Homo sapiens: one gene and its partner. The protein of the gene in region 1 interacts with the protein of each later gene in a pairwise test. Each region holds a gene or a part of one and is shown on either strand. Other genes may lie near its edges.

What was found. The genes of interacting proteins can lie anywhere in the genome.
Region 2: the proteins of TMEM182 (region 1) and MS4A3 interact in binary tests that used the Homo sapiens proteins (3 or more experiments, as listed by UniProt).

What each region holds. Positions count from the first base shown.
Region 1 is NC_000002.12:102,793,008-102,800,040, reverse strand, and holds part of TMEM182 (transmembrane protein 182 isoform a precursor), read right to left. Parts: intron 2,179-7,033; coding exon 2,041-2,178; intron 1-2,040. UniProt on the Homo sapiens protein: Negatively regulates myogenesis and skeletal muscle regeneration via its association with ITGB1. Modulates ITGB1 activation by decreasing ITGB1-LAMB1 interaction and inhibiting ITGB1-mediated intracellular signaling during myogenesis.
Region 2 is NC_000011.10:60,066,638-60,071,621, reverse strand, and holds the end of MS4A3 (membrane-spanning 4-domains subfamily A member 3), read right to left. Parts: intron 4,672-4,984; coding exon 4,510-4,671; intron 2,049-4,509; coding exon 1,947-2,048; intron 1,419-1,946; coding exon 1,389-1,418; 3' UTR 507-1,388; downstream 1-506. UniProt on the Homo sapiens protein: Hematopoietic modulator for the G1-S cell cycle transition. Modulates the level of phosphorylation of cyclin-dependent kinase 2 (CDK2) through its direct binding to cyclin-dependent kinase inhibitor 3 (CDKN3/KAP).

The sequences.
Region 1 (7,033 bases):
CAGAGTGAGATTTTTTTTTTTAGCTCTTTAAACTGTTGGGGCTCAGGAAACAAAACTCCAAAATGAAGCCCCAGCAGCAGCCTCAGGAGCAAAAGTTTTTCTCTGACCTTCTCCTGCCCTCCTGCCTCCCAGTCCTGTTCTCTCCCGAGGCTGGCCTTAGAAACCACAAAGGTCCCCTCTCCACAAAGGTGAATCATAGAAACCAGAACTCCTTTCCCCAAAGCCAGCCACGAAACCTGAACATATTACTCTAACTCTCCCTCCACCTTTCTGTGTAAAAATTGGCCACAAAGGACAAAGGAATTGACCGGACCTACCTTGTTTGCCAATTCCAGAGAGGGTCCCGCCCCACACCCAGAAGGAAGGCGTGCTGCTCAGTGAAGCCATGAAGAAGCTAAACGGACAGGCCTCGCTGGGTTCCCCACTTAGTCTATGACCATTAGATCCTGCCCTTTTTGTCCAATCATATTTCTACACAGCTGCCCATCCTTTGTTGAACCTAAGCATAAAAATGGACAATTTGCCCATATCTTTTTGGGTCTTCAATCTGAAAGCTCCCAGGTATACACATGAAATTATATGTATGCCTTTTCTTCAATTAATCTGCCTTTTCCAAGTGGATTTTTCAGGGAACCTTCTGTTCCTCTTGGCCCCTACAAAATACAGGATCTAGATCTGATTATTATTTTTATTCCCTCTGCAGAATTAAGCACAATCTTATGCAGAAAGTATTGTGTTACCTGAGCACTGATGAAATGACACTGGGCAGCATCACAAGCCATCTTTCCAATGATTAGAAGGACAGTAACCTTCTCCATTCTGTTCCTTTCCTTCAACTGTCACTACAGTGTCACCTAGGAGCACTCTGTCACTCTGGTTTGATGTTACAATACAGCATAGTATGTACAGTTTGGTCTCAGTCATACTGAAGTTTGGCTAGTTTTCTAGAATTATCTTTACAAATAATAGCCTGTGCTTATGTTTCCAAGTTAATAGTCTGGCTTTCACTGCCTAATTAAATGAAAAGGGCTTAAAATTCACAAGACTCACCTCTTCAATTACTTTTCTATTTGTAGTGTGATCATTTTAGCAGAAATTAAATTAGTTAGAAACCTAACTAAAATAAATGCAAGCTTCACACAGAAAATAATATATTCAGATAATTCATATGGATCACAATTAATTAATTATTTTTTTTTTTTAGACAAAGTCTCGCTCTGTCATCCAGGCTGAAGTGCAGTGGCACAATCTCGCTCAATGCAACCTCCGCCTCCCGAGTTCAAGTGATTCTCCTGCCTCAGCCTCCTGAGTAGCTGGGATTACAGGCACATGCCACCACGCCTGGCTAATTTTTTTGTATTTTTAGTAGAAACAGGGTTTCACCATGTTGGCCAGGCTGTTCTCAAACTCCTGACTTCAAGTGATGCACCCACCTTAGCCTCCCAAAGTGCTGGGACTACAGGTGTGAGCCACCACACCTGGCATCAACAAACAATTAAGAAAATGAATGGGAGTGATGTAGAAAAATATTTTTGTACCTATGATAAATCATGAGTGTATGCTTATCATAAATATCATCACAGGGCTATCTTTGAAGAGCTCAGAAAATGCCTACCCATATCATATGCTGATATGTTACAGAGACTTATGTTACGATCCCCATTTACAGACAGAAAATTAATAGGGTAAGAGGTTAACAGTCTCTTACACACCTTGGAGTGAGTCAGTGACAGAGTTTTCTCCTCTAAGCCTCAGTGTTCTCCTCTTTATAATAATGGCCTTACAGTGAGCAGAGACTATCATGATGGTTAAATGTGTCAGCATGTGGAAAAGGGAAAGTCCCTGAAAAGTGTCCGACACACAGTTAGTGTTCAAGAAGTATTGTATACAAATATTATTAGTTAGTGTTCAAGAAGTATTGTATACAAATATTATTGTGTTACTGTTACTAGAAGGCTGACGCCTGAATATAGAAATGAAAAATAGAAAGACATGAAGAAAAACCGTGGCTGAAAGTCATACCCATTGCACCGTACGTACCTGCAGCAATATATGAGCCTCCCCCAGCTTTGTAGAGAAAATGGCTGGCGAAGGGGGCTGCACAGATGATCAAAAAGCTTGCGATGACTACAGCAACTACCCCCAGGAGCATCAGGACTGCCCAGAAACCACGGTAAACTGGAGACCCCAGGAGGAAAAGAGAAAAGAAAGAAAAATACACTTAGATTGTGTACACAGCAGATTGTCACAGTCAGTTGCTTTCATCTTCATTTTTCTAATTTCAGCTATGGCACTGCTAGATAGAATGCCAGGGATGGGTCTGAACAAACAGGAGATCTTATCAGATGACCTTGGAATCAGTGATGTCCAAGCTGGTGACCTTCAATCAACTCCTCTTGCTCAATGTTTGTACCACACACATGCTTAATATACTGTGGGAGCTCTTTTTTCCATCACGATTTTCCATTTTAGAAGCAAGAAGACCTAAGGTTCTTGCTTCTAAAGAGTTCTCCCATTTAAGTACCCAGTTGGGTAGCCTAGAAGTGTTTCATACCGAATGTCCAAACACATGTAAATGCATTCACATTATTTACAAACACTACCTCACATCTTCTTCTAAGATATATTTGTACCATGATTATCTCTGAGAGCTGATAATAGTCACCCCAAGCCCCTAACCACAACAAAAATATCCACTTCTATTTAGATTGTTGGCTCTATAGAAAACAGTCTAAGGCAATAAAAAATGACAAGCAAAACCATAAAAGAAGTTCGTTTAGCTATGCTTTCCAAGCAAATCTGATAATTTAAATCAGATGTATTTAAGGCTTACCTCTTTCTATTAATATTTTCACTTAGATTCAAAATGAGAAGTATAGGAGTCTATAGGAGTCAAGGACAAGCAAGGCTAAATTAATGGAAACAGCTGGTAAGAAATAGTAGGTTTGGTGATATATGGTAATCAAACAAAAAGGAATTCTAACGATCATTTTTGAGTTGGATAATTACCAATCTTAACCAATTTCATCATTTCCAAAAGGATAAAAAGCTAAAATAAATTCTTGATAGTATAGATGGGGGAACGCTCAGTGAAACATATTAGTCAAGTTATATTTTAAGAAAATATACAACTTGATAAGAAGGAAAAGAATATTTTTTTTTCTCAAGAAGCCTTCCTGGCAAAGAAGAAATCTATCAATCAACTGGAGTTTTACAGGAAAGAGGATGGGAGGATGGAAATTTGAGAAGAGGAGTCACTTCAGTTAAATGGAAAAGGAAGGCTCGGATTTTTATGTGAATAACCAAGTCCTGAAAACAGGAATACATGATAGGCTTTCACTTCCCATACCAGTGCTGGCCACTTGGCATGGTTTCCAGGGCTGCTGTGTTAGACAATATTCTGCAGTTGTATTCAGGCTCAGCAGGGAACAGGGCAGTGAAGAGATACTAATGTCAGCTTTGAGTATGGAAATTACGAGTTGCAGAGTGTGGCCAAATATTTGCTGTCCTTGTCCTACCATAGTTTATTAGGCAATTGGTGAGTCTCACATTTTACATTTTCATTTATTTCATTTAGAAATAGGTTGAGGTTATCTTTCACAGGACAGCTTCTGTGCCAAGTGCTAGGGGTATAATCATTAACAACAAGAAGCAGCTCAGAGAATAAGAAATCCATTCTACGACTGTACTGATCACAACTAAAACTAGGTAAGTATGACAAGCAACCATATAAGGACTGAAAGTAAATAATAGCAAGTGGAGTGAGAAGGAAAGTCAAGTCTTAACAGAGATCAAGTTGCAAAGTTATCTGATTTTCTTCTTTTTTCCTCATGGATTTGGCCTGAAGGCAAGCGAATGGGGAACTGTGTAAAAGGTGCGAATAGCAAAAATCTTTAGTTGAATTCATTTCCTAGAAATCTAGGAAAATAGCCCCCTAAAGCCAGAGTAAATCCCCATGTTTATTTTTTCCTCTTTTTATTCCCTTAGTCCTGCCTCCAGATCAGCTTTAAATACAGGTCTGCACTGCTGCCCCAGTGGAGGCGTGGGCACTTAAAATCCCAAATGATGACCCAACCCTCTAGATAGAGGAATCACAAAAAGGAACCCTCATTGTGCAAAGAGGAGGGAGGAATCATGGTTATGTTTTTTCTCCTTTCTCTTGCTGCTTGCTATGTGTCATGGCTGCATGGAACTGTGCCACAGCGCAGGAGGCCAGAACTCAGAATTCAACCTTTCTGGCCAGAGAAACTGGGAAAAAGAGTCCGAGGAGCCAGAGGGTGTAAAGAAAATCCCACAGAGAAAAGAGCTAAAGAAAAGACTCTAAAATTCCACGTTTGAACCTACACAAATACCAAGCACACCCCCAAGTTGCACATGCACAGGAAACAGACCAAGAAGCATAGCAAAGTCTTTAAGAACCAAATTACAGTTTGAAGACCGTCCAGGTTCCAGAGCAAGCCCTGAGTGGTGTGCGCCCCAGGGTGCACAGCACAAACAGCATCACATAGACTTTGAAAAATGAATTAAAATTGAAACTGCCACCACAGAAGAAAGGGACAGATTGGGTTGGTTGATTGCCTGCCGAAAAAATAATAATAATCAAATTTTTTAAAAATCAACATTATCCAGAGAATTTTAACAGTGAATTCTCCACTGAATTTAACACTTTGAATTTTGACAACATAAAATTCAAGGTGTCCAGGATACAACCTGAAATTACTTGATATACCAACAATAATGAAAATCTGATCAATTATCAAAGAGACAGCCAAACCAAAGATGATTTAGATATATGAATTATCAGACAGACTTGAAAGTAGTTATTAGAACCATTTTCTATAGACTGGGGTGAATACTCTTGAAATAAATATAAAGAAATTATAAGGTCTATAAATTACAAAAATAAATTTTAGAATTAGAAAACACAATATCTGAAATTAAACCCATGCAATGGACTCAATAATAAAACAGGGATGAGAGAGGACAGAGTAAGTGAACTTGAAAATAAAGCAATAAAAATTATTCAATATGAGAAACAGAAAGAAAAAAGATTGAAAACAAAATAAATGAAGTTTCAAAGGCTTGTGGAACAATATCAGAAGTTCTCACATTTGTGTCATTGGAGTCCTAAAGCAGAGGCCGTAGATATTGGTGAAGAAAAAATATTCATAAAAGTAATGCCTGAAAACTTTCCAAATGTGATGAAACACAAATTTACAGATACAGGATACTCAGCAAACTCCAAAGCGAATAAACTCCTATAAATTAGTCAAGACACATAATAATAAAATTACCAAAAACTCTAAACAAAAAAAAAGTCTTGAAAGCAGCCAGAGGAAAAAATCATTACATAAAACATATGGGGAAATAATCCCAAGGCTCTAACTTTCTCATCAAGAATGATGGAAGCCAAAAGACAGTGGGAAAACATTTTTAAGCTGCTGAAAGAAAAGACCTTCAACTAAAATTCTGCACGTGGTGAAAATATAGAAAGAAGGGTAGGGTGAAGCCATTTGTGAAGAAGGAAAGAGTAGAATGTGTTATCAACAGACCTGTTCTACAGGAAATGCTAAAGGAAGTTCTTTGGGCTAAAGAGAAATGACACCGGAGTGCACGTTAAACTTCAGAAACAGAGGAAGAGCAGCAGAAATGATTAATATCCATGTAAATAAAGTAGAATCTATTTCTTGTCTTAGTTTCTTTAAATGATATTTGTTAAAATTTAAAAAATCAGCATAATACAGTAGAAAAACATAGGTGTTGGAGTCCGAGTGACCTGAGTATTTACCACTTTCTTGCAAGGTAACTTTGGACCAGTTACTGAAACTCCTAGAAGTCTCTTTTTCTGTAAAATAGAGATGTTTGTGTCCATCCTTTAGAACTATTAGAAGAATGACTTACAATGTATGTGAAGTGTGTGGCATATAATAAGAAACCAATAAAAGGCATTTCTTTTTTTCTTTTTCTCTTTGAGACAGAGTCTTGCTCTGTCATACAGGCTGGAGTGCAGTCATGTAATCACAGCTCACTGCAGCCTCAAGCTCCTGGGTTCAAACAATCCTCCTGCCACCTTCACCCAAAGTGCAGGGATTATAGGCATGAGCCACCATGTGTGGTGGCTTTTATTGCTATTATTATCAAGATTGCATTATCACTGCACAGCAGGGGGTCTTGTGTTCAGCAATAGGAACATGTATTCTTTCCCTTAGCTTGTATGGTCAGCCCTCTCTATCTGGGTTTTGCATCTGTGGATTCAACCAACCATGGATCAAAAATATTTAGGAAAAACACAACAAAAAATGTCAATACAACAATAAAAATCATACAAATTGTAAAACAATACAGTATAGCAACAATTTACCTAGTACTTGCATTGTAGTAAATATTAGAAGTAATTTAGAGATGATTTAAAGTATACAGGAGGATGTGCATAAGTTATATGCAAATACTATGCCATTTTATATCAGGGACTTGAGTGTTCACAGATTTTCATATCCTCAGGGGGATGGGTCCGGGAAACAATTATATGTGGATGCTGAGGGACAACTGGATGGCTGTACACTGTTTCTGATGTGCCACTGAGGTTGGAACATCTCTTTAAATGATAGCTTAGAGTGCAGTAGTCATGTTTGGGCAAAGTAGACTACTGATACAGAAAGTTCTACGAAGTTCTCATACCATCTCTCATGGGAACGTTTTCTGTCCATTTACCTCCTAAAAAGGTAGTGGCCATGTTCCATATCACATGACTCTACTCCTACAAACCTAAAACATCAGTAAATGGGAGCAGATACCTGACACAGAGCCAATGCACGGTGACCTCTGACCCATGCCTTCTGAAGAACAGTTTGAAAGATGAATTGGAATCATCCTTGTGATCCCCTAGGAACTGGAAAACTGAGAAAGTGAGGTGATGAGCAGCAGAGCAGAAGCTCACATGAGGCACTGACAGCCCGAATCAGATGAGCCAGGGAAGCCCAGGCTCAGGGATCCTGAACCAGGTCACACAGACGGCAGAGGAAGCAGCAGGAGC
Region 2 (4,984 bases), on another chromosome or scaffold:
AATCCGACTGGGTCGGTGCACCTAAATAATTAAATAATTCCTCCTCAACCCCTCAGTCTCTCTGGTTCCTTAATTATCCCGCTGCAGAATGGATTAAAAAATAAAGAAATAATTATTATATAAGTAGGATACAAGTGTTAGAAAAGAACCTTTGCACATACGATATACACGTAACTAAGAATAAATTATTGGTATAAATTTATGGACACAATAAGTGCTTATATTTCTTATTCATAAATTTTATTTTTCTTGGATATTTATGAATAAGAAATATAAGTGCTTTAGCAGATTTATAAACGAGGAACTGAGGGAAGTTTTCACGCCACATTGCCACCTCGAAAAGATGGCTATTGGAGTTGTTGGAGGTTATACGAGGAGCCACAATGGAAGTGTAAGTAAGTTTTCCACTGTATCTCTCCAGCACATCTGACCACAATCCCACCTTAGCTTTCACCAGCAACAGCAAGACCAACAACAACAGCAACATCATTGTCAAGTACCTGTGGTGCTGTTTCACATTTTCTTTTTATTTTCATTTAACCCTCAGAGCAACCGACAAAGTAGTTGTTATTATTACACCTATTTTACAGATGAGGAAAAATAGATCAGAGAGATTAGATAATTTGCCCATGTTCATACAGGTAATAAGTGACAGTTTCAGAATTTGAACCCAGATGTGTCAGATTCTAAAGGCCTTATTCTTTAGTTCTCTACTTTACAGTTTCCCATTGTCCTTTGAAGAACACATTTGGGCTTGCTCTCAGACTCGCCAACATAAATCATCATTTACATATCAGGGCATGTGTGAGTTCCAGCAGTTCACTGAAATAAAATCCCTGAGCCTTAACCCTCCCATCTCAAATACAGTGAAAATTTATTTTAATGATAATGATGGTAATTTTTTATTTGACACTTTTTATAATGCTGATGTTAAAGTCAAGAAGCATTTCTCTGTAATGGAAAAAATGTCTCATTTTTCTTCCTACTGGGCGGTCAGAAGTTGGATTTTAGAAAAAATATATTGAATAGGGATTATACCGCCTTCCTTCCTTAAACCTCATAAAGCAATGGAGTAGGTGGATAAGAAGAAATAGAACCAATTTCTGGAAACAACTTTGGAGTAATGATCATAGAAGTTACAGATATCCAAGAATGCCTAAAGAAATATATCTGTCCTTCCATACCCACGACACACAAATAGGATTTATAGTTAGGAGAGAAAGGATAGAGTCAGTCAAACGTCCAAGGTTCTTGTGATTGGTGCCATGATAGAAGGATTGAGCTTTACGAGCAGGCTTATGTTCTCCTGAGTTTGTGGGTGAAGCTCTGAGTCACTGGAGATTTAAGGTCAAATATTCATGCTCTCAGAATTAAGGAGGTATTCTTGATTACACAGAATTGGGAGGTGAGGAAATTTCCTAGAAAATAAAACAACATTAATGTCCAAGAACAGGATCATTATCTCCTTCTCCTCCCATCCCTTCCTGTTATCATCATAATCATCAACAATAAAATCCATTCATTGATGTTTACTGTGCCAAATGCCATAAAGATTATATACACAGTACTCACAACAAACATTAGAAGAGAATGAAAATATTATTTTCATTTTACAGTTAATATATCTAAAATTTAGAAAGAATTATTAATTTTTCCTAGGTCATACAATTAGAAAGTTACAAGTTATAAGAAAATAATAAAACTTAATTACAGCTGTATAAGAAAGTATGCTCTTATATATCAAGTACAGTATTTCCTCTTGCATGTTCACATCCAAATTCTTTTCTACCCTTCATTCCATCTCTAACATTCATACAATCTCTAATTCCAGGAACTCCACAAATCATTACCACATAAAGGTTTATTTCTAAGCATCAGAAACAACTTCAAACCCTACAGGGAGGCTTTGAGATCATGTGAATGATTAATCATTTGAAAAATCTCACCTCTCTTGAATTACAGCAGTTTGCATTGCACCACATGGCTATGGTAGAGATGGTTACGCATAATTCCAGCAAGGTGAGAATCAGCAGTAGAGACACCATGCCCTAGGGGATATGATGCCTTATATCAAACCCAGTGGCAACATCCAGAGGTAAAAAAAAAAATGTCAGCAGGAAACCAGACTACAACATCTCCCTCCCGTAAAGTGGAACAAAGTGAACCATAAATTAAAGACAGAGACACATATAACACTGTAGAAGAGATAGTATCTCAATCTAAAAGCATGAAAACATTTTCTCTAATGAGAAAGATGTGTCACATTTCTATGTCAACGCATGTGAAGTAGCTACAGGGGGAAGAAGCTGTAGAAACAAAATTCTGACATTATCACTAACATCTTCCAATCTGAATAGTAGTAAACTAAGGAGAGGAGTAGGCAGTTTAGAAAAATGAACAAAAATGGCCCTTCCACAATTTCATTAGCACTTCATAGGGGTTTAGGCATTTACATTATCCCTAGAAACTAAAACACTGAGCTAATATAAACAAAAAATAAAATTGTTGGGCTAATGATTCTACTATTATTACTGAGGCACCTAGAAGCAACCAATACAATATATCCCTGGAGGAAAAATACCTCCAAATTCACAGAAAAATCAGGCTCCGACAAATATAAATTTAGATCATTAAAAATGTAATAAAGAAAATGAGAACACAAACTTCCATAAGTAGTGTCTCACCCATAGGTGGGAACTGAACAATGAGAACACTTGGACGCAAGGCGGGGAACATCACACACCAGGGCCTGTCGTGGGGTGGGGGGCTGGGGGAGGGATAGCATTAACAGAAATACCTAATGTAAATGACATGTTAATAGATGCAGCAAACAAACACGACACATGTATACATATGTAACAAACCTGAACGTTGTGCACGTGTACCCTAGAACTTCAAGTATAATAATAATAATAAAAAGAAAACAGGAAGCTTAGGAGTGAGTCTGTAATTAACAGTTCATAGATCACTGGGATGAAATGGATAATTCCAAAGGAAAATATTAATTTCTAAGTAGAGTTCAGAAGAGGTAGAGTACCTGAACACAAATTTTTAAAAAATTGGTAAGGTTGGCTGGGCGCGGTGGCTCATGCCTGTAATCCCAGCACTTTGGGAGGCAGAGGCGGGCGGATCACGAGGTCAGGAGATCGAGACCATCCTGGCTAACACAGTGAAACCCCGTCTCTACTAAAAATACAAAAAAAAAAAAAAAACAATTAGCCGGGCGTGGTGGCGGGCGCCTGTAGTCCCAGCTACTCGGGAGGCTGAGGCAGGAGAATGGCGTGAACCCAGGAGGCGGAGCTTGCAGTGAGCCGAGATGGCGCCACTGCACTCCAGCCTGGGTGACAGAGCAAGACTCCGTCTCAAAAAAAAAAAAAAAAAAAGGTAAGGTTATTAAAGAGCTTTCCTTTGAAAACACCATGCTAATTTCATTCTAAAGCGCAGTCCTTCAAAACTTCAAGTCATTATTTGAACATTCCAGATTGCAGAGAAAGTTGTAAATCTCTCAAGTTTGTTTTATTAAGCAAGGAGATATGAAATGAAACTTTATTTTTTTATTTTTTTATTTTTTGAGACAGTTTCACTCTTTTTGCCCAGGCTGGAGTGCAATGGCGCAATCTCGGCTCACCGCAACCTCCGCCTCCCGGGTTCAAGTGATTCTCCTGCCTCAGCCTCCCAAGTAGCTGGGATTACAGGCGCCTGCCACCATGCCCGGCTAATTTTTTTTTTTGTATTTTTAGTAGAGACGGGGTTTCACCATGTTGGCCAGGGTGGTCTCGATCTCTCGACCTCGTGATCCGCCTGCCTCGGCCTCCCAAAGTTCTGGGATTACAGGCGTGAGCCACCGCGCCCGGTGAAATGAAACTTAAAAAAAAATCTCTCTGGGGAGTGTAATAGTAGTAGTTGTGGTAATAATAATTGTGTATCATGATATGCTAAGCCTTGTTTTAATTGCTTATCATATGTTAACTTTTTAAATACTCACATAAATCCTATGAGACGGGTACTATTGTTATCCTCATTTCAAAAATGAGAAAATTCAAGGGATTATCTAATTTGCCCTTCATTATAAAGCAAATAGGCGACAGACCCAAGATTCAAATTATGGGATGGGCGCGGTGGCTCACGCCCCTTATCCCAGCACTTTGGGAGGCCGAGGCGGGCGGGTCACGAGGTCAGGAGATCAAGACCATCCTGGTTAACACGGTAAAACCCCGTCTCTACTAAAAAAATACAAAAAATTAGCTGGGCATGGTGGTGGCCGCCTGTAGTCCCAGCTACTCGGGAGGCTGAGGCAGGAGAATGCTGTGAACCCAGGAGGGCGGAGCTTGCAGTGAGCCGAGATCACTCCACTGTACTCCAGCCTGGGCGACAGAGCGAGACTCCGTCTCAAAAAAAAAAAAAAAAAAGATTCAAATTATGGCACATTGGTACCTGATATATTATTTTTCTGTACATCCTGGATTGTTTGAAATATTTTATACTTATACATATTTTTCAGAAACATACATTTGATATGGAGCCCATGTAATTGCATAGGTCCGGTGACTCTGATGAAGAGTGACAACTCCTTAATGACTGGATATTAACTGCTATATTTAGTGAGAGAAAAGCAGTCCCCACTAGTGCAATTGTAGCACTGGCAATGTTCATTCCAAAACTGTTCTGTATCTAAAAAAGAATAAGAATTTTCAATTAATATATGCAGCACGTACTTCATTCCTTTGGCAACAATTCATTGAAACAAACATTGATTGAATATTGTTTACACACCCACTGATATCCTAGATGCGAGGCTAACATCAATGACCAAAGAAAGATTTCTGTCCCCCACCCTCCATGGAGCTTATATTCTAGCAATAAAAACAAAGAAAAAAGTAAACATACTATAGGTAAATTACATAATATTTTTGAAAGTGATTAAGTACTAGGGGCTAACAGAATGGGATAAGGAGAATCTGGGAATCCAAAGAGAGGAGTGGGG